Homo sapiens: one gene and its partners. The protein of the gene in region 4 purifies or fractionates together with the protein of the main gene of each other region. This does not show direct contact. Each region holds a gene or a part of one and is shown on either strand. Other genes may lie near its edges.

What was found.
Region 1: the proteins of ZBTB3 (region 4) and AHCYL2 purify together in Homo sapiens (affinity purification with mass spectrometry, with the first as the bait; one large-scale study listed by BioGRID). This does not show direct contact.
Region 2: the proteins of ZBTB3 (region 4) and VWA8 purify together in Homo sapiens (affinity purification with mass spectrometry, with the first as the bait; one large-scale study listed by BioGRID). This does not show direct contact.
Region 3: the proteins of ZBTB3 (region 4) and SMYD2 purify together in Homo sapiens (affinity purification with mass spectrometry, with the first as the bait; one large-scale study listed by BioGRID). This does not show direct contact.
Region 5: the proteins of ZBTB3 (region 4) and KLHL21 purify together in Homo sapiens (affinity purification with mass spectrometry, with the first as the bait; one large-scale study listed by BioGRID). This does not show direct contact.
Region 6: the proteins of ZBTB3 (region 4) and ZNF131 purify together in Homo sapiens (affinity purification with mass spectrometry; 2 studies listed by BioGRID). This does not show direct contact.
Region 7: the proteins of ZBTB3 (region 4) and KLHL23 purify together in Homo sapiens (affinity purification with mass spectrometry, with the first as the bait; one large-scale study listed by BioGRID). This does not show direct contact.

What each region holds. Positions count from the first base shown.
Region 1 is NC_000007.14:129,424,030-129,427,370, forward strand, and holds part of AHCYL2 (adenosylhomocysteinase 3), read left to right. Parts: intron 1-844; coding exon 845-913; intron 914-1,033; coding exon 1,034-1,112; intron 1,113-2,413; coding exon 2,414-2,534; intron 2,535-3,009; coding exon 3,010-3,016; 3' UTR 3,017-3,341. UniProt on the Homo sapiens protein: May regulate the electrogenic sodium/bicarbonate cotransporter SLC4A4 activity and Mg(2+)-sensitivity. On the contrary of its homolog AHCYL1, does not regulate ITPR1 sensitivity to inositol 1,4,5-trisphosphate.
Region 2 is NC_000013.11:41,566,335-41,569,722, reverse strand, and holds the end of VWA8 (von Willebrand factor A domain-containing protein 8 isoform a precursor), read left to right. Parts: intron 1-1,327; exon of another isoform or gene 1,328-1,417; coding exon 1,418-1,526; 3' UTR 1,527-2,888; downstream 2,889-3,388. UniProt on the Homo sapiens protein: Exhibits ATPase activity in vitro.
Region 3 is NC_000001.11:214,284,159-214,287,658, forward strand, and holds part of SMYD2 (N-lysine methyltransferase SMYD2), read left to right. Parts: intron 1-3,500. UniProt on the Homo sapiens protein: Protein-lysine N-methyltransferase that methylates both histones and non-histone proteins, including p53/TP53 and RB1. Specifically trimethylates histone H3 'Lys-4' (H3K4me3) in vivo. The activity requires interaction with HSP90alpha.
Region 4 is NC_000011.10:62,751,361-62,755,603, reverse strand, and holds the start of ZBTB3 (zinc finger and BTB domain-containing protein 3), read left to right. Parts: upstream 1-1,443; 5' UTR 1,444-1,640; intron 1,641-1,888; 5' UTR 1,889-1,939; coding exon 1,940-3,514; 3' UTR 3,515-4,243.
Region 5 is NC_000001.11:6,592,870-6,596,369, reverse strand, and holds part of KLHL21 (kelch-like protein 21), read left to right. Parts: intron 1-812; coding exon 813-885; intron 886-2,259; coding exon of another isoform or gene 2,260-2,262; exon of another isoform or gene 2,263-2,711; coding exon 2,712-3,005; 3' UTR 3,006-3,500. UniProt on the Homo sapiens protein: Substrate-specific adapter of a BCR (BTB-CUL3-RBX1) E3 ubiquitin-protein ligase complex required for efficient chromosome alignment and cytokinesis.
Region 6 is NC_000005.10:43,158,914-43,162,413, forward strand, and holds part of ZNF131 (zinc finger protein 131), read left to right. Parts: intron 1-2,335; coding exon 2,336-3,018; intron 3,019-3,500. UniProt on the Homo sapiens protein: Plays a role during development and organogenesis as well as in the function of the adult central nervous system. May be involved in transcriptional regulation as a repressor of ESR1/ER-alpha signaling.
Region 7 is NC_000002.12:169,740,332-169,743,831, forward strand, and holds part of KLHL23 (kelch-like protein 23), read left to right. Parts: intron 1-1,053; coding exon 1,054-1,206; intron 1,207-3,500. Other genes in the region: PHOSPHO2-KLHL23 (kelch-like protein 23), read left to right, coding at 1,054-1,206.

The DNA of each region.
Region 1 (3,341 bases), on a different chromosome or scaffold from region 4:
GTTGAGCAAAAAGGTGGTCAGGCTTCATAGGAAACAAAATAGGAAAGGGTGGCATTGGGGGCAATTTCTAGTTCTTCTACTGTCTGAATCACCAACTCAAAATACAAGGCTGACAATGCTGTCTTTGAATTCAGGAGAAGCAAACTGAAGGAGAAGCACAAAAATCATCACAGCTATGGTGAAACCCTGTCTCTACAAAAAAAAAAAAAAAAATACAAAAGTTAGCCGGGCATGGTGGCGCACACCTGTGATCCCAGTTACTCTGGAGGCTGAGGCAGGAGAATCACTTGAACCCAGGGGGCAGAGGTTACAGTGAGTCAAGATCATGCCATGGAACTCCAGCCTGGGCAACAGAGGGAGACTCCATCTAATCAATCAATCAATCAATCAATCAATCAATCATCACAGCTTCCTAAGTCCAAATATACCTCCCCTCACAACCTGGAGAGATTGTCCCTGGATTTGACTGATCATTGTTTATTTCAAGACAGTCTTTAAAAGAAATGCCGATCCTCAGAAGGAGGATATTTTGCTATAGAGAGTGGAAAATTCAAGAGAAGTACACTGATATTTGGCATAAGCCTCAGTGTCATATGACCATCTGTATTCCTTTTTAAATAATTCCAGAAATCTTTTAGCTATTAGTTTCATCAGATTTTCCAGAATTTTAGTGGTTTCATTTAAATGTCAGTCAGTTAGTTCTTATATATTGAATAGCTGCTTTTTTTCCAGCAGTGTTAGTCAGGAAGTGTTTGGAAAATGGTGGTCATGCTTCTCTTCCCTCACTTCTCAAAGGCCAGCGACTTTGTCCTAATCCATTTGTGTCTTCACCTTTGATCACTAGGGCCGCCTGCTGAACCTTAGCTGCTCCACAGTGCCTACATTTGTGCTCTCAATCACTGCTACTACTCAGGTAAGGCTTCCAGAGTGGGATAGCAGTAGTCTGGAGAAGGTCCTCAGACCCACCAGGTTTCACTTGCTTGGGTAGATTGCCATGAATGGCACATCAGCATCCATCTCTCTGCTTTTCTAGGCTCTTGCCTTGATAGAGCTTTACAATGCTCCTGAGGGTCGCTATAAGCAGGATGTCTACCTGTTGCCCAAGAAGATGGGTAAGTATTTACTCTTCCATCTCCATCCTTACCAAAGTAGTTCAGAGTCTGAGGTTAAAGGAAGTTTGGGGGCATTAACTTACTTAAGGATGGGGGAAAAAAGGTACCTTCATCTTGTAAAGTAGGAATTAGGATTCCTAGGTGCCATTCCCATTTATTTATCCCATTTTCTACATGTGTTGCCCTAGCGAAGTTGTGATATTATGCTGTGATTTATTTTACCTGCCTGTGAATTTTAAGGATTTTTTTTTTCTTAAAGTATCTTTATGTGGGAATCTCAAAGGAGAAAAAAAAAATCTTCCCTTAAAAGAGAAGAATCATCTCCTACCTTGTGACATCTGACTTACTCCAATTCTAGGCTGCCAAATAGCCCCTACCAAACTTTTCTCAGACGACACAAGACTTTCTTACTACACCTTCCAACACCAATCCCAGTGCTTCAGGCCAAAGGAGAGATGTGGAATAGGAGCTATTTAGTTATGTGGGTGTTTTGTATAAGAGAAACATTAACCTGTCTTAAATTTTTAAAGAGCCTGCCTCAAGCACCTGAACTGATACAGTGTGTTTATAAACTCCTCAGGCAAAGATCAGGTAATAAATAAGCTTCTGGTTTTGTTTTGCCTTAGCACTAGGTATATAACAACTGTTAAAAGTTGATACATTTTCCCTTTAGTAGACACTTTAGAAGGATATAAAAGCAACAGCACAGTCCATATTCTGACAGAATGTATAATGAAGTTGGGAGACCAAACAAATACATAGGAAATGACATAAGATTATGAATAAGTACTATGTAGTCAGATAATAGAATGTGAACAGAAACCCATAAGAATTAAGAGTACTAAAAGCAAAGCAAACAGTTCATTTATCCCATTTAGTATCCTTCTTAGTTTTTCCATTCAAGTTTCCCCAGGCATTAGTTGTTTTAAATGACCCAAAGTATGGAGTCCAAGGCAAAACTCAAGTTGGAGCTTCCCATTATTTAGTTCCCACATTATCCTATTCCTTCTTTTAAATCTTAATGCCTGTTGTTTCTTTCATCTCTCCTGCACTTTTCTGGAAGGCAGGGTTCAAAGCTGAGTTAGTAAGGATGAATTATTAAGGCTTTGGAAAGCACTGGGCTTGAAGCTGAAGGCAGCTATTCCTTAGAATTGAGGACCAGTGAGCGAAGGTTGAACATTTTTCATTCAGCTCCAGGAATTAGAAGGTGTCTTTGAACTTTTTAAGGCCTAGCTTGGGGACAATAGCCATCAGATAAAAGGCATGAATGCTTATACCAGGGCTTCTGTGGTCTGTTCCAGATGAGTATGTGGCCAGCCTACACCTGCCTACCTTTGATGCCCACTTGACAGAGCTGACAGATGAACAGGCCAAGTATCTGGGACTCAACAAGAATGGGCCCTTCAAGCCTAATTACTACAGGTGCCTTGGGCTCCCCAGAAATCAGGGACACCTGGGCAGTGATGAGCTTCCTGCACTGGAATTGGTCTTTGCATCCCCAACCACATATGCTTACATGAACTCAGAAAAATGAACCCACTTCCCCTCACTGCCACCTTCAAAAGACTCTTCAAGGCCTTAAATAGTATTCCCCTTCCTGAATTTGCCTTTTGGAGATAGAGAGGTGGAGTTTGGGTAAGTGGCTATTTGCCTCATTAAATAAAGTTCCCCTTCCTCAATTCCTTTCCCCATTTCATCTTGTTGCTATGATTTTTATCTCTTTATGGAGAAATATTGGCCTTTTTCAATGATGTGAAAAGGAAACACAGTTATTTCCTGTCACTGTACACTCCAGAAAAGTCTCTGCCTCCCTGTTACACCTTTAGGCAGGCTCTTCATGTCCCAGCATCCCCATTAGCTGATAACATCACAGTCTCATCTTTCTTTTTCCCTCCAGGTATTAAGTTCCTGTAACTCAAACCAGAATTTTTAAGGAATAGAACTCCAAGCCTTTTCTCCACTACTATACAAGAAAGAATTCAGCAAGCTGCTTCTCCAATCAAAGCTGCCTGCCGTGCTCACCCTGTGTGTTAGGTTATTTATTTATTAAAATCAAGAATCCTGTGCCTGTAGTGTTGGCCCAGAGTGTGGTTACTGCCCTGAGGGCCATGAAAGCCACAGAGGATGGGCTGAGGAAGGAAAGAAATGGGGTTACTGCTCCCAGTGCATCATTTGCATCATTCCCCATTGACTGAATCCTCAGCAGTGGCCGTTTTTCCTCTTGTCCAG
Region 2 (3,388 bases), on a different chromosome or scaffold from region 4:
ATGGTTTTTCTGTGTTTAAAATACCTGTAAGAAACATAAAACACCAGTGAAAGTAATCTTAAAAAAAAAAAAAAAAATCCCTGCCTAAAGCACAAAGGGCCTACGTTTTTGTTATTCCACCCCTTTTACTTTTCATACTCTGTGACTGGAAATGTTTTAATATCCAAAATGCTAGCAGCTTTTTCTCTTTCTATTCCCTTTGCCTTGCTGTAAGGTTGCAGAGCGAGGTTGAGAACAGACTTAATATCATGTAGTTACAGTCATTTTATGACATGACTTTTCATTCTTCTTAGTTTTTACAAGTTAGCACTTTGCATCTTTTAGAACCTCCACATCCTCAAACACAAACTATGCCTTTTCCACCCAGGTTTTCCTCAGCATCAGCCCAGTATTAGGCAGACAACAAGCTCAACAAATACTAGTTGAGATGAAATGGCTATTTTGTCTTTCTAGTGAACAGATCCTGTTTGAATACTTAAGAAAGCACAATAATACCCTTGTGGTTTCCTAGGGAAATGGTCCAACATCCACTGGCAAAAGATATGTTGCAGAATTAGCTGGCTTACCAGGCATGCCAAATATACGATACTACACAGGATGGTTGAATTTTATTAAATGTCATTCCAAAGCCAGACTTCACTGGCACAGTGAAAGGAGGCGTTCTTTTGAAGAGAACTGTGTCTTACAGTTTTGTTGCCTTCAAAATGGCCTTTTGTTCCAAATTATAAATTAGTATTTAAAAAAGTATCGTAACTTCAATGACATGTTATTTTTAAGGATAATTCAAATCAAAACCCATTATAAGTTTTTTAAAATTCACTTAAAAATGAGTTGGAAAAAATTTCATAAGCCTGTATAACCTCAGTGTCATTGAAGCAGTAATTGGACAATCCAGATCGCATTTCACATTGTGTGATGTGGACCAAAAAAAAGAGAGAGAGGCAAAGAAAGAGAGAAAGAACCACTCAGGGTTTGGCTGCGCAGCGTTTTTAGAGGCCTGTTTTCTAAGGAAGGAAAAGCACTTCGAAATACAGTGTAAGGTCAACATATTTGCTAGACCCGGGAGGTGAGCTGATTCCATATGAATCCCTATGGCTCTGTTATACCAAAAGAATATGAAATACCAAGAAATGGCAGTAAAGAAAGGAAGAAAATTTTTTCTTTTCAAATTCACTGACTTTCTCACTGAAAAGACCTTTCTTTCAGTTCCCTGCTTTTGCTGTGTCTTTCCTTGTTGCTCTTCCAAGCCTTTCATTGTTTAATGACGACTAATTCAATGGTAGGCAGAGAGCAAGGTATTAGAAAGTAAAAACTTCCTTTCCTAAGAAACCATTAGGGGGCTGTGGTTTGCCAGGGCAGGAGGTGGAAGGGAGCCCCATTTACAGTGGTAACTTCCTTTCCCTTTCCATCCTGGCAGGCTTCAGAGAACTTTACCAGCTGGTCGGTCTTTCGTTGCCATGGATACCAAGGATATCCCTCAGATTTTACAACAGATCTTCACCTCCACCATGTTGTCGAGTGTCTAAGAAGTGCCCTTCATCACCCTGATGACACCAGGATTTGAAATAAGACAGGAATAAAGAGTATTCTGAAAAAAAGAAGATATGGATGAAGTGAACCCATGCAGTGACTGGATGATTCCGGCATTCCTGGGTCTTCCTACACTTGCTCCGTAATGAGAATTCAGAGAAGCAGCCAGAAGGAGACTTAAACATGGAAAGATACTCCACTGATGAGTTTAGAAGTGATTAGGGCAAGCTAGTTGACCTGCACTTTATCAAAGGTTGGGGTTAAAGGAAGGTGGTTTTGAGAACTATGTGTTTGGTCTATTTCCAAAAACCTGAGGGGGAGAAAATACTTTGCTTTTGCCTTAACACATCATCTGGTCACGTTAGAAAAGTGACCCCATCAAACTGAGCCTTTGATGTCACATTCTGACACAAGATGCAAGTCTGTGCAAAACCCACCAAAATGCTCCTATCCAACAATTATTTTTATTTTCTCCCTGCTCTGTATTGACCAGAAAACAATGATTTTATAATATTTAACCCACCAAAAAGTCCCTCCAACAGCAATATCTTATGAAAGTCTGGCTGTTCTCAATAATTTCATTTTCTTGGCCAAAGCCAAAAGGAATCAAAAAATCCTTGGAGTGCTTGCCTTTCCACGTGACTTTTAAAAGGCTCTTAAAGAGCAAATGTCCTCTTCTCCTTGCTGCTAGAGTGGGAGGAGAAAGATGTCTTGCCTTAAAAGTTTACTGTTTCTTCTGTTCTTCTAGCATCTCTCAAAAAATTCACAGTACTCCATTTTGGGGTCCAAACTGTAATGCTCAAAATAATAAATGCTTACACGAAAATTATTTATTGAGAATATTCATATAAAAATTACCTAAAGCAAAGTAAAAAAAGTAAAATCAAGGTGGTATATTTGAAGTGAATGGTGATTGGAAATTTTTAGCTGTAACAAAAAGAAAGAAAACAACTTTTTTTAAAGCCTCATTCTCTTTTCTTTCAAAATGTACCTTATTCCCACACACTCTTGGGCTGACCTTTATTTTATCAATAAGCTCAATATTACTTTGTTTAAAATAAGATGCTTCAGCAAAAGTCATTCTCTCTTTAACCATATAATTTAAAAACTCCTCTTCACGATTGATAGCAAAATCAGAAACGTTAGGGCACCAGTGAGTTGAAAAAACTGGTCTTAAGTTGGAAAAACTATTATTAATAATATTATCCTATCCATCCATATCTATTGAAATTGTACAGGTCCATAATTTCATTTTAATTAATTATAGGAAAGAAGAAAAGATAATACCCATTTGTTCTATCACCCCTCTCCCTATCATTAACTATCAAATAAATAAATAAAAGCAATCTGATTTCCAACGTGGTACTACCTGGTGAGTTTGCATGGCTTTCTTGTTCCTCTAGTGAGACACCTGCTCCATGTATTGAACCATTCAATGATGCAAACAATTTCAATCCAACATGTATCTTTAAAAATGTAATTGCATTCCAACGGTCGCCACAACAGCAGCTAGCATTTACTGATGATTTACTGTGAACCAGGTATATGCTAAGTGATTGCATACATTATTTCATTCATCCTTACAACAATGCATGTAACAGGGGTATTTTTTACCTTATTTTGCAGATGATAAAGAAAGTGAGGCTCAGAGAATTTAAGTCACTTTCCCAAGATTCCTGTTACTAGACCTTTCACTAACTATTCATGGTACCATTAACATCCTCATTTTACAAGTAAAGAAACTGAGGCTTAGAGAAGTTCAAGAAAATAGGCCACACTCACAGCCAGGCAGGGGCAAAGCTGGGCCTCCAGCCTCCAGGCCCCTTAATGCCTTTGCGTCCCTCGCAGTCCCACGCCC
Region 3 (3,500 bases), on a different chromosome or scaffold from region 4:
GTCCCTATCAGACTTCTCAGATACACTTTATACACACATACACACATAAATGCACACATACACATTTTGGCCATTTATCACCATTTTTTGGTGTGGTTTTTTTTTTTTTTTTTTTTTTTGAGACAGAGTTTCGCTCTTGTTGCCCAGGCTGGAGTGCAGTGGCGTGATCTCAGCTCACCACAACCTCCACCTCCCCGGTTCAAGCAATTCCTCTGCCTCAGCCTCCCGAGTAGCTGGGATTACAGGAATGCGTCACCACACCTGGCTAATTTTGTATTTTTAGTAGAGACAGGGTTTCTCCATGTTGGTCAGGCTGGTCTCAAACTCCCGGCCTCCCAAAGTGCTGGGATTACAGGCATGAGCCACTGCGCCGGGCCAAGTATGTTGTATTTTAAACTAAGTTTTAGACTTTTTTTTTTTTTTGAAACAGTCTCGTCTCACTCTGTTGCCCAGGCTGGAGTGCAGTGGCACGATCTTGGCTCACTGCAACCTCCGCCTCCCGGGTTCAAGTGATTTCCGACTAATTTTTGTATTTTTAGTAGAGACAGGGTTTCATCATGTTGGCCAGGCTGGTCTCGAACTCCTGACCTCAAGTGATCCACCCACCTCAGCCTCTCAAAGTGCTAGGATTACAGGCGTGAGCCACCGTGCCTGGCCTAGACATATTTTAACCCCCAATGTGATTTGTCTCAGAAGGAGAGAAATCTGCTTTAACCCAGTGTTCCATCTAAATATTCATTCTATGTGCCATTCTTCAGGTAGGCAGATCTTTTGATCTTTAGTCTCCCTTTTGATCTTTAGTTCTCTTGGCTCATGGGTTATTTAAGGATGAGATTATTGACATTTCTTTGTTTGTTCTGAGTGTAGGGGGAACCAGGAAAGCCCATTTAGCCTCCTTGGAATAGAGCTGTTAGAACCCAGTTTCAGTGAATTTCGGTCATGTCTGGCTTAGATTAGTTGTTTTAAAAATTAAATTGTTTGCCTGAGCCAAACCCTGTGATTAAGGTGTCCTATTTCAGCAGTTATAAAGGCTTTTTTTCCTCATGTCCCCCAGATTTATTCTCTAGCGTATTCATCTTAGCTTTCCTCTTGTTTTATCAAACCGGCAGAATAATTTTTAGTTGATCTTAATCAGTATTAAGGGCCATGAAATCCTGATGCTGTTTTCCTGAAGTTCTCTGAACTAGCCCTGGTTCTGGCTGCCTGAAGCTGTGCATGAGAAGGGGACCTTGTGCCCAGGACTGCTATGACTCTGGCTCTCCTGAGAATGCTTTGAGAGTTGTTTTGGGGGAGAAATGGCTTCAGATGTATTTAAATCATCATGTTTTCTGAATAAAAAAATTGAATACATGCTCTAATAAAGGGGTTCCCCTTCTTTTTTAGATGTATTTTTATAAAATAGGTGGTAAGACTAAAACATACATACAACAGATTTCCTGTAAAAAGTGCCATTAAAGAATGCAAAATTCAGCTATCTGTATGTTAGGTAAGGAAATGGCTGTTTTCACTTTCCACCTTTCAGTATTTCAAGGTTTCCATGTACATTAATGCATAACTTAATGACAGGGATATGTTCCAAGAACTGCCTTAGTAAAGCAGTTTGGTCCTTGTGCCAGCATGCTAGAGTGTACTTACACAAAGCTACGTGAGAGAGTCTACTACTCACCTAGGCTGTATGGTATAGCCTGTTGCTCTTAGGTTACAAACCTGTACAGCATGTTACTGTACTGAATACTGTAGGCAGTTGTAACACAATGGTAAGTATTTGTGTATCCAAACATATCTAAACATAGAAAAGGCACAGTGAGAATATGGTATCACAGTCTTATGACCACCTTTGTTCACGTGGTCTGTCATTGACTAAAATGTTGTTAGTGCATGACCTTATTTCAGTAGAAACCGCAAAGCAGGGACTTTGTGGCAGGTGGACTGGGTTTGAATTCTGGTTTCATTCTTTCCTGATGGTTTGTCTTTAGGCCAGTTATCACTTAACCTCTCTGAACTCCCAGGTTCCCTTATCTGTAAAATGTGCGTACTAATGCCAGTGCCGTTAATCCCAGGACTTGGTAGGCTGAGGTGGGAGGATCGCTTGAAGCCAAGATTTTGAGACCTGCCTGGGCAACATAGCAAGACCCCATTCGCTACAAAAAAAATTTTATTTAGTTTAGCCAGCTGTGGTAGCCTGGGCCTGTAGTCCTAGCTACACTTGGGTAGGCTGAGGTGGGAAGATCCCTTGAGTCAGGAGGTTGATGCTGCAGGAAGCCATATCACTTACTCCAGCCTGGAAGACAAAGTGAGACCCTGTCTCTTAAAAAAAATAAAAAAGTGTGGACTGGGCATGGTGGCTCACACCTGTAATCCCAACACTCTGGGAGGCTGAGGCAGATGGATCACTCGAGGTCAGGAGTTTGAGACCAGCCTGGCCAACACAGTGAAACCCTGTCTCCTCTGAAGATACAAAAATTAGCCAGGTGTAGTATAGTCCCAACTACTTGGGAGGCTGAGGCAGGAGAATGGCTTGAACCTAGGAACCCAGGAGGCAGAGGTTGCAGTGAGCTGAGATCACGCCACTGCACTCTAGCCTCCATCTCAAAAAAAAAAAAAAAAAAAAGCGTATGAATACCCACCCTACCAACCAAGCTAAGTCAGTACAACCCTAGCACATAGTGAGCCATCAAAATCACTCTGATCTCTCTTCTTTTTTTTTTTTGAGATGGAGTCTCACTCTGTCACCCAGGCTAGAGTGCAATGGCACAATCTCCGCTGTTCAAGTGATTCTCCTGCCTCAGCCTGGTGAGTAGCTGGGATTACAGGCATGCACCACCATGCCTGGCTAATTTTTGTATTTTTAGTAGAAACAGTGTTTCACCATGTTGGCCAGGCTGGTCTTGAACTCCTGACCTCAGGTGATCCACCTGCCTTGGCCTCCCAAAGTGCTGGGATTACAGGTATGAGCCACCACGCCTGGCCTGATCTCATACTTGTTTGATGAACTCTGCTGGCTAAATGTTTCTAACTTAATTAAATTGTGTGATAAAATATTATAATTTTAGGGGCGTTTTTATGGAGTTGTGGGGAGGGGTGAACACTGGGAAGGAAATACTGGAAATTGTTGACCAGTGGAGTCACCATTAAGCTGGCCTATTGGCTGGGCGCGGTGGCTCATGCCTGTAATCCCAGCAGTTTGGGAAGCCGAGGCGGGCGGATTACCTGAGGTCAGGAGTTTGAGACCAGCCTGACCAACATGGTGAAACCTCATCTCTACTAAAAATTCAAAAATTAGCTGGGCATAGTGGCGGGCGCCTGTAATCCCAGCTACTTGGGAGGCTGAGGCAGGAGAATCGCTTGAACCCGGGAGGTGGAGGTTGTGGCGAGTTGAGAGTGCGCCACTGTACTCCAGCCTGGGAGACAGAGTTAGACTATGTCTCAAAAAAAAAAAAAAAAAAAAAAGATGGCCTGTTGACCCATAGCCACAACCAGCAGTTCTCAACCTTGGGTTC
Region 4 (4,243 bases):
TACTCCTCTAGTAACACTACCTGGGTCAGACGGGGCAGTTATCAGTGACTCCCAACTTATAGCCTTTTCCTCTGGGTGTGTAGAGACTCTCAAAGATTTCTTCAGTAGACACGGTTTTTGCTTCTTCTCTCCTGTCCTGGGACATTTTATGATCCTGACCCCATTCTTACCCTTCCTACCAGCACCTGCTCAGCACGCTCTGGAAACAAAGAACACTCTATCCTCTCACTGTAAATTGACTGTAGAGTCCAGGCTAGGGACACCACGACATCATCCCTGTAGCTGCTAGTTCTTTCATGCCATCACTGAGCCGGGAGCCCCGGAAACTTAGCTTGGAGGAGTGGAGCAGTAGGGCATCTTAAAATGTTTTTTTGTTTGTTTGTTTTAGATGGAGTTTTGCTCTGTCTCCCAGGCTGGAGTGCAGTGGCGCTATCTTGGCTCACTGCAACCTCTGCCTCCTGGGTTCAAGAGATTCTCCTGCCTCAGCCTCCCTAGAAGCTGGGATTTCAGGCACGCGCCACCATGCCCAGCTGATTTTTGTATTTTTAGTAGAGATGGGGTTTCACTATGTTGGCCAGGCTGCTCTTGAACTCCGGACCTCAAGTGATCTGCCCGTCTCAGCCTCCCAAACTGCTGGGATTAAAGGCGTGAGCCACCGAACCCGGCAAATCTTAGAATTTTTGAGAGGAAGGGACCTTCAAGAGACAAACGCAGTTCAGGGACGTGGGGCTATTGCCCACAGTCACCAGTTGGTTCTCTTTTTTTGGGGGGGTGGGGGGATAGGGTCTTACTCTGTCGCCCAGGCTGGAGTGCAGTGGCACGATCTTGACTCACTGCAACCTCCGCCTCCCGGGTTCAAGTGATTCTCCTGCTTCAGCCTCCCCAGTAGCTGGGATTACAGGCGCGCGCCCCCAAGACCTGCTAATTTTTGTATTTTTAGTAGAGACGGGGTTTCAGCATGTTGGCCAGGCTGGTATCGAACTCCTGACCCCAAGTGATCCGCCCTCCTCGGCCTCCCAGAGTCCTGGGATTACAGGCGTGAAGCACTGCGCCTGGCCTAGTTGGTTCTCTTTTTCCCTGTCAGCCTGTAGCGGGAGTGGCTTGCTGTCAGCTCGGGTCCGACACTGCAGGGTTCCCGACCTCCAGCCTCGCCAGGAGAGCGCCGCGTTCAGCGACTCGGAGCCGGGTACCTCCTGCCTGCTGGATTAGGTAGAAGGAGAAGCTCAGCCAATCCTGAGGGCTCGGAGGCAAGGAAGGCGGGACGAAGAGGAAAAGTTGAGGACAGGAGCGTCACCCAATCCAACGCCTGACTGCAAAAGCGATGGCGGCGAGCACCCAATTGTAGACGGCAGTTAGAGGGAGGATGGTTAGTGGAGAGCGGACCAATCCGTGACAGGGGAGGGCAATCTTAAGCCAATTAAAGCTGAGAAGGTGGGAAGGGGCGGAGCTCGCCCTGTGGCTGCTCGGTGGTGGGTGAGGTATCAGCTTTCTCCGCTAGTTCCCACCCTGGTAGTCCTTAGCCCCTGGAATGCGTGAGGGAGATGCTTAGGGAGTTCTCGAAGTGGGGCGTAGAGGCATCGCCTGGCAAGGCCTGGGAGCGAAAAAGATCTCTACTTCGTGGAGCCGTTGGACGCTACCGGGTGGGCATCAAGGAAGCGGAGGGTGGCTAAGGGGCGGGACTTCCGGGGGCAGGGCTTATCGGACGGGGGTGGGGCCTGTTCTAAGGTTAGGCCGAGGTGGGCGGAGCTAATGGGAGAGCTTTGGGTGTGACCTAGGAGAAAGAAGGGCAGTAACTTAAGCGATTGTTTTGGAGTGGCAAGTGATAGTTAAGGGCTGATAAGGTTGCTGGGGAGGTTACCTGTCTTAACTCACTGCCCTTTTTTCTCAGGGAGCCACTGGTGGGGACCTTTTTTGGGCCCCCTTTCCTTCGTGGGGTACTATGGAGTTCCCAGAACACAGTCAGCAGCTGCTGCAGAGCCTCCGGGAGCAGCGGTCCCAGGGTTTCCTTTGTGACTGCACCGTGATGGTGGGTAGTACCCAGTTCTTGGCCCATCGGGCTGTGCTGGCCTCCTGCAGCCCATTCTTCCAGCTTTTCTACAAGGAGCGGGAATTGGACAAGAGGGATCTGGTGTGTATTCACAATGAAATTGTCACAGCCCCAGCCTTTGGGCTGCTTCTGGACTTTATGTATGCTGGCCAGCTGACCCTGAGAGGGGATACCCCTGTGGAGGATGTGCTGGCAGCTGCCAGCTACTTGCACATGAATGACATCGTCAAGGTGTGTAAGCGGCGGCTTCAAGCCCGGGCCCTGGCAGAGGCAGACAGTACCAAGAAGGAGGAGGAAACCAACTCACAGCTTCCTAGTTTGGAGTTTTTGTCTAGTACTTCCCGTGGCACCCAACCTTCGTTGGCATCTGCTGAGACATCAGGCCACTGGGGCAAAGGGGAATGGAAAGGCTCTGCTGCTCCCTCACCTACTGTCCGTCCTCCAGATGAGCCACCAATGTCTAGTGGGGCTGACACTACACAGCCTGGCATGGAGGTTGACGCACCACATCTGCGGGCACCTCATCCACCAGTGGCTGATGTCTCTCTTGCCAGCCCTAGTAGCTCCACTGAGACCATTCCTACAAACTACTTCTCTTCTGGCATCTCAGCAGTTTCATTGGAGCCACTGCCATCTCTTGATGTGGGTCCTGAGAGTCTGAGGGTGGTGGAACCAAAGGATCCTGGAGGACCACTGCAAGGCTTCTATCCCCCAGCCTCAGCCCCAACGTCAGCCCCAGCCCCTGTCTCAGCTCCAGTTCCATCCCAGGCTCCAGCCCCAGCTGAAGCTGAGCTGGTCCAGGTGAAAGTTGAAGCTATTGTGATCTCTGATGAAGAGACTGATGTGTCAGATGAACAGCCTCAGGGTCCTGAGAGAGCTTTCCCATCTGGAGGAGCAGTGTATGGGGCACAGCCCTCCCAGCCAGAGGCTTTTGAAGACCCAGGGGCAGCAGGACTGGAGGAGGTGGGGCCAAGTGACCACTTCCTGCCAACAGACCCTCATCTACCCTACCATCTGCTGCCAGGTGCAGGGCAGTATCATCGAGGACTGGTGACCTCACCTCTGCCTGCACCCGCATCCCTGCATGAGCCACTTTACCTGTCTTCTGAGTACGAAGCAGCTCCAGGAAGCTTTGGGGTTTTTACTGAGGATGTTCCCACCTGCAAGACATGTGGGAAGACCTTCTCATGCTCTTACACACTACGGCGACATGCCACGGTGCACACACGTGAGCGACCCTATGAGTGCCGCTACTGCCTGCGGAGCTACACGCAGTCAGGGGACCTCTACCGCCACATCCGCAAGGCTCACAATGAGGACCTGGCCAAACGCAGCAAACCAGATCCAGAAGTGGGACCCCTTCTAGGGGTGCAGCCTCTCCCTGGCTCCCCAACAGCAGACAGACAGAGCAGCAGTGGTGGAGGGCCACCTAAAGATTTTGTATTGGCCCCAAAAACTAACATCTAAGGGAGCATGAGCTGATGCTAGGCTGCTCTTACCATCCTTAGATGGCAGCTCAGAAGGTTGGTGGCACCTTATCACCCCTGCTGGGTGACAAGAATAAAGGCTCTGCCCAGGCTGAAAGTTCCTACCCTTTTTTTTTTTTAATCTTTTATTTTTTTGAGACAGAGTCTCACTCTGTCACCCAGACTGGAGTGCAGTGGCGCGATCTCGGCTCACTGCAAGCTCAGCCTCCCCGATTCACGCCATTCTCCTGCCTCAGCCTCCCGAGTAGCTGGGACTACAGGCGCCTATCACCATGCCTGGCTAATTTTTTTTGATTTTTAGTAGAGACAGGGTTTCACCGTGTTAGCCAGGATGGTCTCGATCTTCTGACAGATCTGACCTCGTGATCCGCCCATCTCCACCTCCCGCAGTGCTGGGATTACAGGCATGAGCCACCGCGCCCAGCTGCCTTTTTTTTTTTGAGTCTTGCTCTGTCACTGAGGCTGGAGTGCAGTGGCGCAATTTCAGCTCACTGCAACCTCTGCCTCCCAGGTTCAAGCGATTCCTTTTTTTTTTTTTTTTTTTGAGACAGAGTCTCACTCTGTCCCCCAGGCTGGAGTGCAGTGGCGCGATCTTGGCCCACCACGCCCGCCTAATTTTTTGTATTTTTTAGTAGAGACGGGGTTTCACCGTGTTAGTCAGGATGGTCTCGATCTCCTGACCTCGTGATCCACCCGCCTCAGCCTCCCA
Region 5 (3,500 bases), on a different chromosome or scaffold from region 4:
AATCTCCGCCTCCCGGGTTCAAGAGATTCTCCTGCCTCAGCCACCCGGGTTCAAGCGATTTTCCTACCTCAGCCTCCTGAGCAGCTGGTATTACAGGCACATGCCACCACACCTGGCTAATTTTTGTATTTTCACTAGAGACGGGGTTTCATCGTGTTGGCCAGACTGGTCTCGAACTCCTGACCTCAGGCACTCCACCAGCCTCGGCCTCCCAAAGTGCTGCATTACAGGCGTGAGCCACAGTGCCTGGCCTGCATCTTTGCTTTTCAAGGCTGTGCCTTTGAGCCTTTTACTGTGGGGATATAAAGGGTGTCAGATGAAGTTGAAGGGTCTTGACCCCAAAGTGAGGGGTACTTCAACATAGTAGTGAACAGGACAGGGTTGGGGGCTCATAGTGATATTGGGGACAGTGGCAAGGAGTGTTCCAGGGCCTGTGGGGATGCACAGTGGAGCAAGGAGGCTTCTTTAAGATCTCAAGGGAGCTACTGTAGGCTTGGGGGGTGGGGGACAGCCACCTTGGTACTGGGTGATGGGGAGGCACTGAATGGGCTTCAAGTACTCAAAAGCCTGATCTTCAGGTTTGGGAGTGAGAGTTCTGGCCCTGGAGCCCTGGCTGAGTGGGCACAGGGGGCTGAAATTGGCTCCTAAGAGCTGGGGATGGAGCCTACCTGGCAAGGGTGCTGCTGGATGGCATCAGAAAGATCCAGGTCACTGGAGGAGTCAGTGACCCAGGGGAGGACTCTGCTCCAGCCCTGCATGTGTGCACTTCCTCCTCGCTCTGAGCAGTTGTCCTCCTGCTGCCCCCTCCACAGGGATGACTCCGCTGAGGTGGACGTGTACAACCCGACGAGGAACGAATGGGACAAGATCCCGTCCATGAATCAGGTAAATTTTCAGGCGGGCCAGCATTGGAAGCACAGGCTGGTCCTGATTTTGCAACCCAAGTGTCATCGTGATGAGTGTTTGGGATCCACAGCCATGATGGGTGGGTCTCATCTCAATTAATAGAAGGCTGCTCTTACCCTTATTTTGCACTTAAGGCTCACTGAGACACAGATGTTAAGTAATACCCTATGATTACACAGCTTAGTACACATTTGAGCAGTGTTTATTGAGTATCTGCTGTGAGCCAGAGAGCAGAAGGAAGTGAGGGAGCAAGGCATACAGTCATCTGGGGACACCTGTTCCAGAGAGGGACAGCAGGTACAGAGGCCCTGCAGCAGGGCACCCTGGCGTGTTCTTAGATACACCAGCAGCCCATGTGGCCGGAGCAGAGTCAGCATGAGGTCTGTGACCTACCTTTTTTATTTTTGAGACAGGGTCTTGCTCTGTCACCCAGGCTGGAGTGCAGTGGTACAATCATGGCTCACTGCAGCCTCCACCTCCTTGACTCGCAGTCCTCCCACCGCACCTTCCTGAATAGCTGAGACTACAGGCGTGTGCCACCACACCCAGTAATTTTTTTTCTCATATGTAGATACAAAAGGATATTCTTAAAATTTTTATAGAGACAGGGTCTTGCTGTGTTACCCAGGCTGGTCTCACACTCCTGGCCTCAAGTGACCCTCCTGTCTCAGCCTCCCAAAGTGCTAGGATTATAGGCGTGAACCACCACGCCCAGCTGGTTCCTGAGGAAGTCAGTGTGGGAATACTTTTTTTTTTTTTATACGGAGTCTCGCTCTGTCACCCAGGCTGGAGTGCAGTGGCACGATCTCGGCTCACTGCAAGCTCCATCTCCCAGGTTCACGCCATTCTCCCGCCTCAACCTCCCGAGTAGCTGGGACTACAGGTACCCACCACCACGCCCAGCTAATTTTGTTTGTGTATTTTTAGTAGAGACGGGATTTCACTGTGTTAGCCAGGATGGTCTGGATCTCCTGACCTTGTGATCTGCCTGGCTCAGCCTCCCAAAGTGCTGGGATTACAGGCATGAGCCACCATGCCCAGCCCACTGTGGGAATACTTGTGTTGAGCACTTGCTGTGTGTTCTGAATAGGACAACCAGGGTCCACCCCTTCTCTCTGGGCTTGTTGAGAAGAGGGGTGCCCAGCCTGACAGTGATGGGACAGGGAGGCTTCAGTGCCATTTGGCCATGTGAGCAGTGTTAGTCTGAGGTACACATCATATTGCCTACAGCCTTCTTTCCTGTGTGTCTGTTAACATTTCCAAACCTACACTCCGTGACATCCAGCCTCACAGCTTACATCACAGCTTAATGTCCTGGCATTTAAGAGACCCAGCGTTCTGTTTTCCCCGCAGTAAGCTGCACATAGTCATAGCGAATTTGGGAAAGATGGAAGGAATCATCCAGCCTCGCGGTTCAGAGCCCAGCTCTGCCACTGTCAGCCATGCAAGCCTCAGTTTTCCCATCTGTAACATGGGGAGAACAGCACTGCTCAGCCCAGAGGGCCACTGCAGAGATTCTGAGAGAGAACGTAGGAAGCGCTGCTCGGCACGACCTGCACACGGGGAGGCCTGGCGCTGCAGCGGGCACCCTCATCACCATAGGGAAGGCCCAGCTGCCTCCGGGGAGGCCCGTTCTCCTAGGCAGGGTGTTGGAAAGGGGTTGGCCTCTCTGCTGCTTTCTGGGAGAGCCAAGGCCACCCCTCTGGGGTACTGACAGGGCATGCCTTGTCTCCAGTGGTTCCCCAGGTGGGGCCCTGCCCTACCCTCTCCTCTGACCTCCACTCACTCATCCCTTTGGCCCACAGGTACATGTGGGGGGCAGCCTGGCCGTCCTTGGGGGGAAGCTGTACGTCTCTGGGGGATACGACAATACATTTGAACTCTCGGACGTGGTAGAGGCCTATGACCCAGAGACTCGCGCGTGGAGCGTGGTGGGGCGGCTCCCAGAACCCACCTTCTGGCATGGCAGTGTCAGCATCTTCCGCCAGTTCATGCCCCAGACCTTCTCGGGTGGGCGTGGCTTCGAGTTGGACAGTGGCAGCGATGACATGGACCCAGGCCGACCCCGGCCGCCGCGGGACCCCGATGAGCTGCACTAGCCCCAGTCTGGCCCGGCACGGGCCTCGGTGCAGGTAACTGGCACCTCTGCGGGGCAGTGCCCCACTCCTTTGTGCACAAGGACACGTTGGGCTCACAGGAGGAGCACAGGCTCTTGGGTGGCGAAGCCAGCCCAGGATCCATTACCTGGAAGGTTTCTGTACCTTGAGAGCCTGAATCAGAGGCCGTCGGGAACGCCCTCCCTGCAGTTGAGGAAGAGCCACTTTCCTGCCAGCACATGTTTCTGGGTCTTGGAGGTCACCCCCACCCCGCGGATCACAGCTCACCCACGCGGCGCACACCCCTCCTGCCGTTGTCATCTGCACCTACTTGTTCCCACCTTGGGAGAGGACGATGACTTGGGAGGGACGCGTGAAGGGAGAAGGGGTCCTCCCATGAGGCTGAGGATGGCCTGAACCTGGAGCAGCGGACCAGGCAGACGGGCTGAAGTGGGGTCCCAAATTCCATGTCCAGAGGTGTGGGGAGCCTGCCTCCCT
Region 6 (3,500 bases), on a different chromosome or scaffold from region 4:
CTACTTGCAAGCCTACAAGTTTTCCTGCCACAGTGTCATGGATGCTGGAAGAAGATAGAAGACTTCTGAGTCAGAAAGAAAGGACCTTATTACTCTCTACATAGCAAGCAGTATAAATTTCATTTTTATACCAGTTTTCCCTTCCCCTCAAGTCCCACAAGAGTGACATAGAGTGGCCCAGGTGAATGCATAAGATTGATTTATATTATAGCTGAAGAATCTCCAGCTTAGGAATCTCAAAATTTTTATAGTGGGCTACAAACAAACCTGCCTAACGTTTTTTCCAGAGTGGGGGCATTCTCTTTATTATATTGGACAATAAACCTGCCCTTTCATCTACTATACTATACTGCAAACATCCAAACCGAAAGTTTTCAGTTCACAAGATGTGAGGAAACTGAAGAGACTCAAGGAGAATTGTCTCCCAACAGGTGTCGTCTTTTACTGAGTTTACTGAGTTGTGAGAATCCTTTCTTCACTCTAGATATAAGATCTTTAGGCTGGGCACAGTGGCTCTTACCGGTAATTCCAGCACTTTGGGAGGCCGAGGTGGGCAGATCACCTGAGGTCAGTAGTTCAAGACCACCCTGGCCAACATGGTGAGACCCCGTCTCTACTAAAAAATACAAAAATTAGGCGGGCATGGTGGCAGGAGCCTGTAATCCCAGCTACTCAGGAGGCTGAGGCAGGAGAATCACTTGAACCCGGGAGGCAGAGGTTGCAGTGAGCCAAGATCGTGCCACTGCACTCCAGCCTGGGCCACAAGAGAGATACTCTGTCTCAAAAAAAAAAAAAAAAAACCAAACAAAAAATTTGACAGATAAATGTTTGCAACTATTTTCTTCTGGCCTGTGGCTTGCTTTTTTATTAACTGTATTTCAGAGGGCAGTTTTTAATTTTGATGAAATCTATTTTATCAATTTTTGCTGTTATGATTTCTGCCTTTCTTATGCTGTTTAAGAAATCTTTCAGCTGGGCAGGCTGGGCGCGGTGGCCCACGCCTGTAATCCCAGCACTTTGGGGGAGGCCAAGGCGGGCAGATCACAAGGTCAGGAAATCGAGACCATCCTGGCTAACACGGTGAAACCCCATCTCTACTAAAAATACAAAATATTAGCTGGTCGTGGTGGCGGGCGCCTGTAGTCCCAGCTGCTTGGGAGGCTGAGGCAGGAGAATGGCGTGAACCTGGGAGGCGGAGCTTACAGTGAGCCAAGATCACGCCACTGCACTCCAGCCTGGGTGACAGAGCGAGACTCCATCTCAAAAAAACAAAACAAAAAAAAAAACAAAAAAAGAAGAAATCTGTCAGCTGGGCACAGTAGCTCATGTCTGTAATCCTAGTACTCTGGGAGGCCGAGGCAGGAGGATCACTTGAGCCCAGGAGTTCAAGACCACCCTGGGTGACATAGTGAGACCTCGATTCTATCAAAAATAAAATTAGCTGAGTGTGATGGCACGCATCTATAGTCCCAGCTGCTTGAGAGGCTGAGGTGGGAGGATCACTTGAGCCCAAGAGGTTGAAGCCACAGTGAGCCAACATCACACCACTGCACTCCAGCCTGGGTGAGAGAATGAGAAATCTTTCACTAACCAATGTCACTAAGGTCTTCTCCTGTTTTCTTCTAGAAATTTACTAATTCTTAAATTTAGGTCTGTGACCCATTTTGAATTAATTTTTCATGTATGATATGAGGTAAAGGTTGAGGCTTATTTTTCCCATACACATAATTGTTCTAGCATCACTGTTAAATGATTAGCTTGGAACTTTTTTTTTTTTTTTTTTTTTTGAGACAGAGTTTCGCTCTTGTCGCCCAGGCTGGAGTGCAATGGTGCGATCTTGGCTCACCCCAACCTCCGCCTCCTGGGTTCAAGTGATTCTCCTGCCTCAGCCTGCCGAGTAGCTGGGATTACAGGCATGCCACCATGCCCAGCTAATTTTGTATTTTTAGTAGAGACGAGATTTCCCCATGTTAGTCAGGCTGGTCTCAAACTCCCAACCTCAGGTGATCCACCTGCCTTGGCCTCCCAAAGTGTTGCGATTACAGGCATGAGCCACTGCACCTGACTGGCACCTTTTTTTCCCCCATAAAAATCAGTTGACTAAGCGTGGGTCTATTTCCATGGACTTTATTCCATTAATCTTCGTGTCTATGCTTTCACCAGTACTATTGTCTTAATTACTGTAGCTTTAAGTCTTGAAATCAGGTAGGATAAGCCCTGCAGTCTTGTTTTATAACTGTTTATATAAATTTTATTGCCACTTTATCAGTTTCTTCAAAAAAGCCTGGTAGGATCTTCTTATAGATTTTTTAAACCCCTACATTATGTATTTCAGGAACAAAGAAAACTCAGCTCCCTTAGAGGAAAATACCACAGGAAAAAATGAGGCCAAAAAAAGGAAGATTGCAGAAACTTCAAATGTTATCACTGAGTCATTGCCATCTGCAGAATCAGAACCTGTTGAAATTGAGGTAGAGATTGCCGAAGGCACCATTGAAGTGGAAGATGAAGGCATCGAAACATTAGAGGAAGTGGCTTCTGCCAAGCAGTCCGTAAAGTACATACAGAGCACAGGTTCCTCTGATGATTCTGCTCTAGCACTGTTGGCAGATATTACCAGCAAGTACCGTCAAGGTGACAGAAAAGGGCAGATTAAAGAAGATGGCTGTCCATCTGACCCCACGAGCAAACAGGTAGAAGGTATTGAAATTGTGGAACTTCAGCTGTCACATGTGAAGGACTTGTTCCATTGTGAGAAATGTAACCGTTCATTTAAATTGTTTTACCATTTTAAGGAGCACATGAAATCACACTCCACTGAGAGTTTCAAGTGTGAAATATGCAATAAACGATATCTTCGAGAGAGCGCATGGAAACAGCACCTAAATTGTTACCACCTTGAAGAAGGTGGAGTCAGTAAGAAGCAAAGAACTGGGAAAAAAATTCATGTATGTCAGTACTGTGAGAAACAGTTTGACCATTTTGGACATTTTAAAGAACATCTTCGAAAACATACAGGTAATGAGCAAATACTTTGTTAAAATTTTTTTTTCCCACATGCACTTCAAATTTAAGTATCTAAATCCTTTTTAAAAAAATAGTGCCTCAGAAGCCATCTCATGTATTATCTCTAATGTGTAGGCTAAGTACACGTTTTTATAGTATTACCTGTTCAAATATTGGTGCTTTAAATGCAAATCAGTATCAACTTTGGAAGTAATTGTTACTTTTATGCCTTGCCCAATTTTTATATTTTTCAAAGAAATAGAGAAAATAGTTTGTGACTTATTTCCTAAAGATCGTAAATAATTAAATCTTATAGTGAGACTTTACCATTTCTATTTTTACATTTCTTGTGTCGTGTTACTTACAGTACATTTACAAGCAATCCCTGACAGCCAGGCGCGGTGGCTCATGCCTGTAATCCCAGCACTTTGGGAGGCCGAGGCAGGCGGATCACCTGAGGTCAGGTGTTCGAGACCAGCCTGGCCAACATGGTG
Region 7 (3,500 bases), on a different chromosome or scaffold from region 4:
AAACTCCTCCTGGGCTCAAGTGATCCCCTGCCTCAGCCTCCTAAACTTCTGGAATTACAGGCATTACTGTAGACTTTATATAGCTTATAAAAATACTTTCTTTTTATCCTTATTCTATAAGCTTTTTTTTTTTTTGAGACGGAGTCTCGCTCTGTCACCCAGGCTGGAGTGCAGTGGCACTGTCTTGGCTCACTGCAAGCTCAGTCTCCTGGGTTCACGCCATTCTCCTGCCTCAGCCTCCCGAGTAGCTAGGACTACAGGCGCCCACCACCACGTCCTGCTAATTTTTTGTATTTTTAGTAGAGACGGGGTTTCACCGTGTTAGCCAGGATGGTCTCAATCTCCTGACCTCGTGATCCACCCACCTTGACCTCCCAAAGTGCTGGGATTACAGGCGTGAGCCACTGCGCCCGGCCTCTATAAGCTTTTTTATATTATATATATATATATATATATATATAACTTATTTATTGATTTTTTTACTCGTTAAACTTTTTTGTTAAAAAAGTAAGACACAGACATACACATTAGCTGAGGCCTATACAGGGTCAGGATCATCAATGTCAGAGTCATCAATATCACTGTCTTCCACCTCCACATCTTGTCCCACTTGCAGGCTTTCAAGGGCAATAACAGGCATAGAGCTATCCTCTCCTATGATAATAATGCCTTCTTCTGGAATACCTCTTGAAGGACCTGCCAGAGGCGTAGATTTATTTACAACAGCATCACCAGAAACACATGAGAATGCTTTATGCCATGTCTTTAAAACAGCTACCACAGTATCACTAGGTGATAGGACATTTTCCACTCCATTATAATTTTATGGAGATCATTGTGCGTGGTGCATGGCTGTGTTTGTGTGCACGTCTCACCCTCTCTTAAGAGCACAAAGAGCCTTCCTTTTTTATTCTTTTGTCCCTTATAGCACTTAGCACAGTACCTTGCATTTTACCATCAGTAATAACAAAAACAACAATAAATTTAGCCCAGGGTTCACTGCAAAAAAGAACAAAAGATCAATCTAAAGATGTGATTTTAATTAATACGTAGGTGTGGGAAATGCTACTGCCTGTGTCTTACATGATGTTATCTACGTCATTGGTGGCCACTGTGGCTACAGAGGAAGCTGCACCTATGACAAAGTTCAGAGCTACAATTCCGATATCAACGAATGGAGCCTCATCACCTCCAGTCCACATCCAGGTAACAAAAATACTGTCTCAAATAGTGTATGTTGTGATGTAGTTTAGTAGCATAAAGGATGGCTAAAAATGGACTGGAAATAGAAAATGCTGATTTTATTGTAGACTACACATGGGTAGAATTAAAAGTCTCAAAATATTCATATATGTCCATCTAACAATAATCACAATGAGATTCTGATTGGGTCACATCTACAAATATTTTCCCTGATGTCTTTATACAATGCACATTGTAAGTCTGTGTGGTCAAAAATATTAGCGTCTTTAAAATTTTTTTCCTTTATATGCCATCTTTCATTTATGACATTAATTATATAAAATACAATGTTCATAAGTAGTTGAAAAGCACCATTCTATCAAATAGTCAGAAAGGGTACCCAGTGATTGAAGTTCAGCTAGAAATTGTTTCCTGTTTTAGAAGCATGTTCTTTCTAGGTTTCACTTACTATTAAGCACTCACTCCTACAATGTGCAGAGCCATATGTTGGCCTTACCTTAACACTCATACAGGGAACATGCTGTCTGCCCATAAGGAATGGCCTACCTTCTTGGATGTCTTCTGTTCTTTGACTTGTGTCTTTGTGAAGAGCTCAGAGGGAAGCACAAGTTTTAGTCTGTTTCAGTTATGCCATAGGTTTAAGTTGTTTTCATTAGGAAAGATTCATATCATCGTACCACCATGTTACCTTGAATCATTTTCCATAGAGCATCAGGCTTCCATGTGGGTCAGTGGAGGGGGTAGTGGAAATTCACAAGCTGGAACCATCTGAGAGGACTAGTAATACTTACCATAGATCAGGCACTGGCTAAGCACTTCATATGTGTATTACCTCAGATTCTCACTACAAGTCTGTGAGCAGGTATTGTTTGTCACCATTTTACATATTTGGAAATGGAGGCTTAGAAACAATAAGTAACTTTTCCAAGGTCACAGTTTCACAGTTTGAAAGTGGTAGACCAGGGTTCAAAATCTGACAGTCTGATTCCATAACTTGTGCTGTAGCCACTAAACAATCTGTCTCTCCTTCAGGGAGCAGACTCTCCTGCTTTCAACCAAGGCAGCTACTTCCAGCCCATACATCATCTATCCCATATGATGGTTAATCTGAAGCACACCTAAATCTGGTGCTGCATCTCCATATGCCCAGGCTTTGCATGAGAAGGAACTTTAGCCCCAGGCTTCCCTGGCTGCAAAGACACCATGGAATGGGTAAACTTCTCCCTCCTAGTAGCCCAAATGGACCATCCCAGACTCCCCACCACTTTCTGCTGTGATCAGTGAAGTTATAATGGAAAGGAATAGTAACAACTCACAGTGAGAAATAGCTAGCATTTATTCAGTCAGTGTGTGGCAGGCACAAACTATTCCAGTAATTTTACATGTATAATCTGTTTAAACCTCAAAATAATTCCATGAGCTAGGTACTGTTTTTATCACATTTTATAGGACACTGAGGGTCAAAGAGATTATATAAATTGCCCAAGGTTAGCCAGCTAGTGCTTATTAGAACTGAGGTTCAAACCTAGACAGACTGGCTTGAACTTCACTATTATCTCACCTGAACCTCATGTTACCCTTAGAAGTTAGATGTTACTCTGCCTATTTTGTGGATAAGCTTATCTTTACAAAGAAAATCCGATACATGAAAAGTCAGAATTCACAAATTAGAGGGCAGTTATTTATATTATAAATTTAATGTATATGTCATTAAGAGTTTCCCTCAAAAATAAGTTTTCCATAACAGATTTCATATAGCTTATTAACTACATGAAAAAGAGTCTGAGAGACAGTGTCACTTTGGACTTAATCCAAAGTATTAATAAGTCATGGCAAATTGAAAATCCAAAATAAATGTTAAATTATAATATAAATCAATGGTAACATAATATGCATCCACATGTAGTTTTGATTTACATTGAACTTTTTCCTGATGAAACATAAAAAACAGATTTTAAATCAGTACCTTGCATGATGTGTTCTGTTTAGCTTTCACAGTCCTTAAAATATTTTTGAACTGGCTTGTTACCAATATTTAAAATTTAAGAGAATTTCAAGTAAAAATCATTATTTCTGTCCTTTAAAAGAAAAGGGAAGACCTAGCAGCCTTGGATGTATTCCTTCTAGGCAGCAGTCACGGGAGCCAGGGGGTAGCTGTTCCCCTAAATGAGGCTTGTGTGCTCCGTTTCACCACAGTCCTTCCAATTCTCCTCACGTCACTGACCTAGGGGGCCTGTGCCGTTGTTTTTCTTGCTCCCAGCTGGCTTTGCTCAGCTAGTCTGTTAAATCCTTAAGCT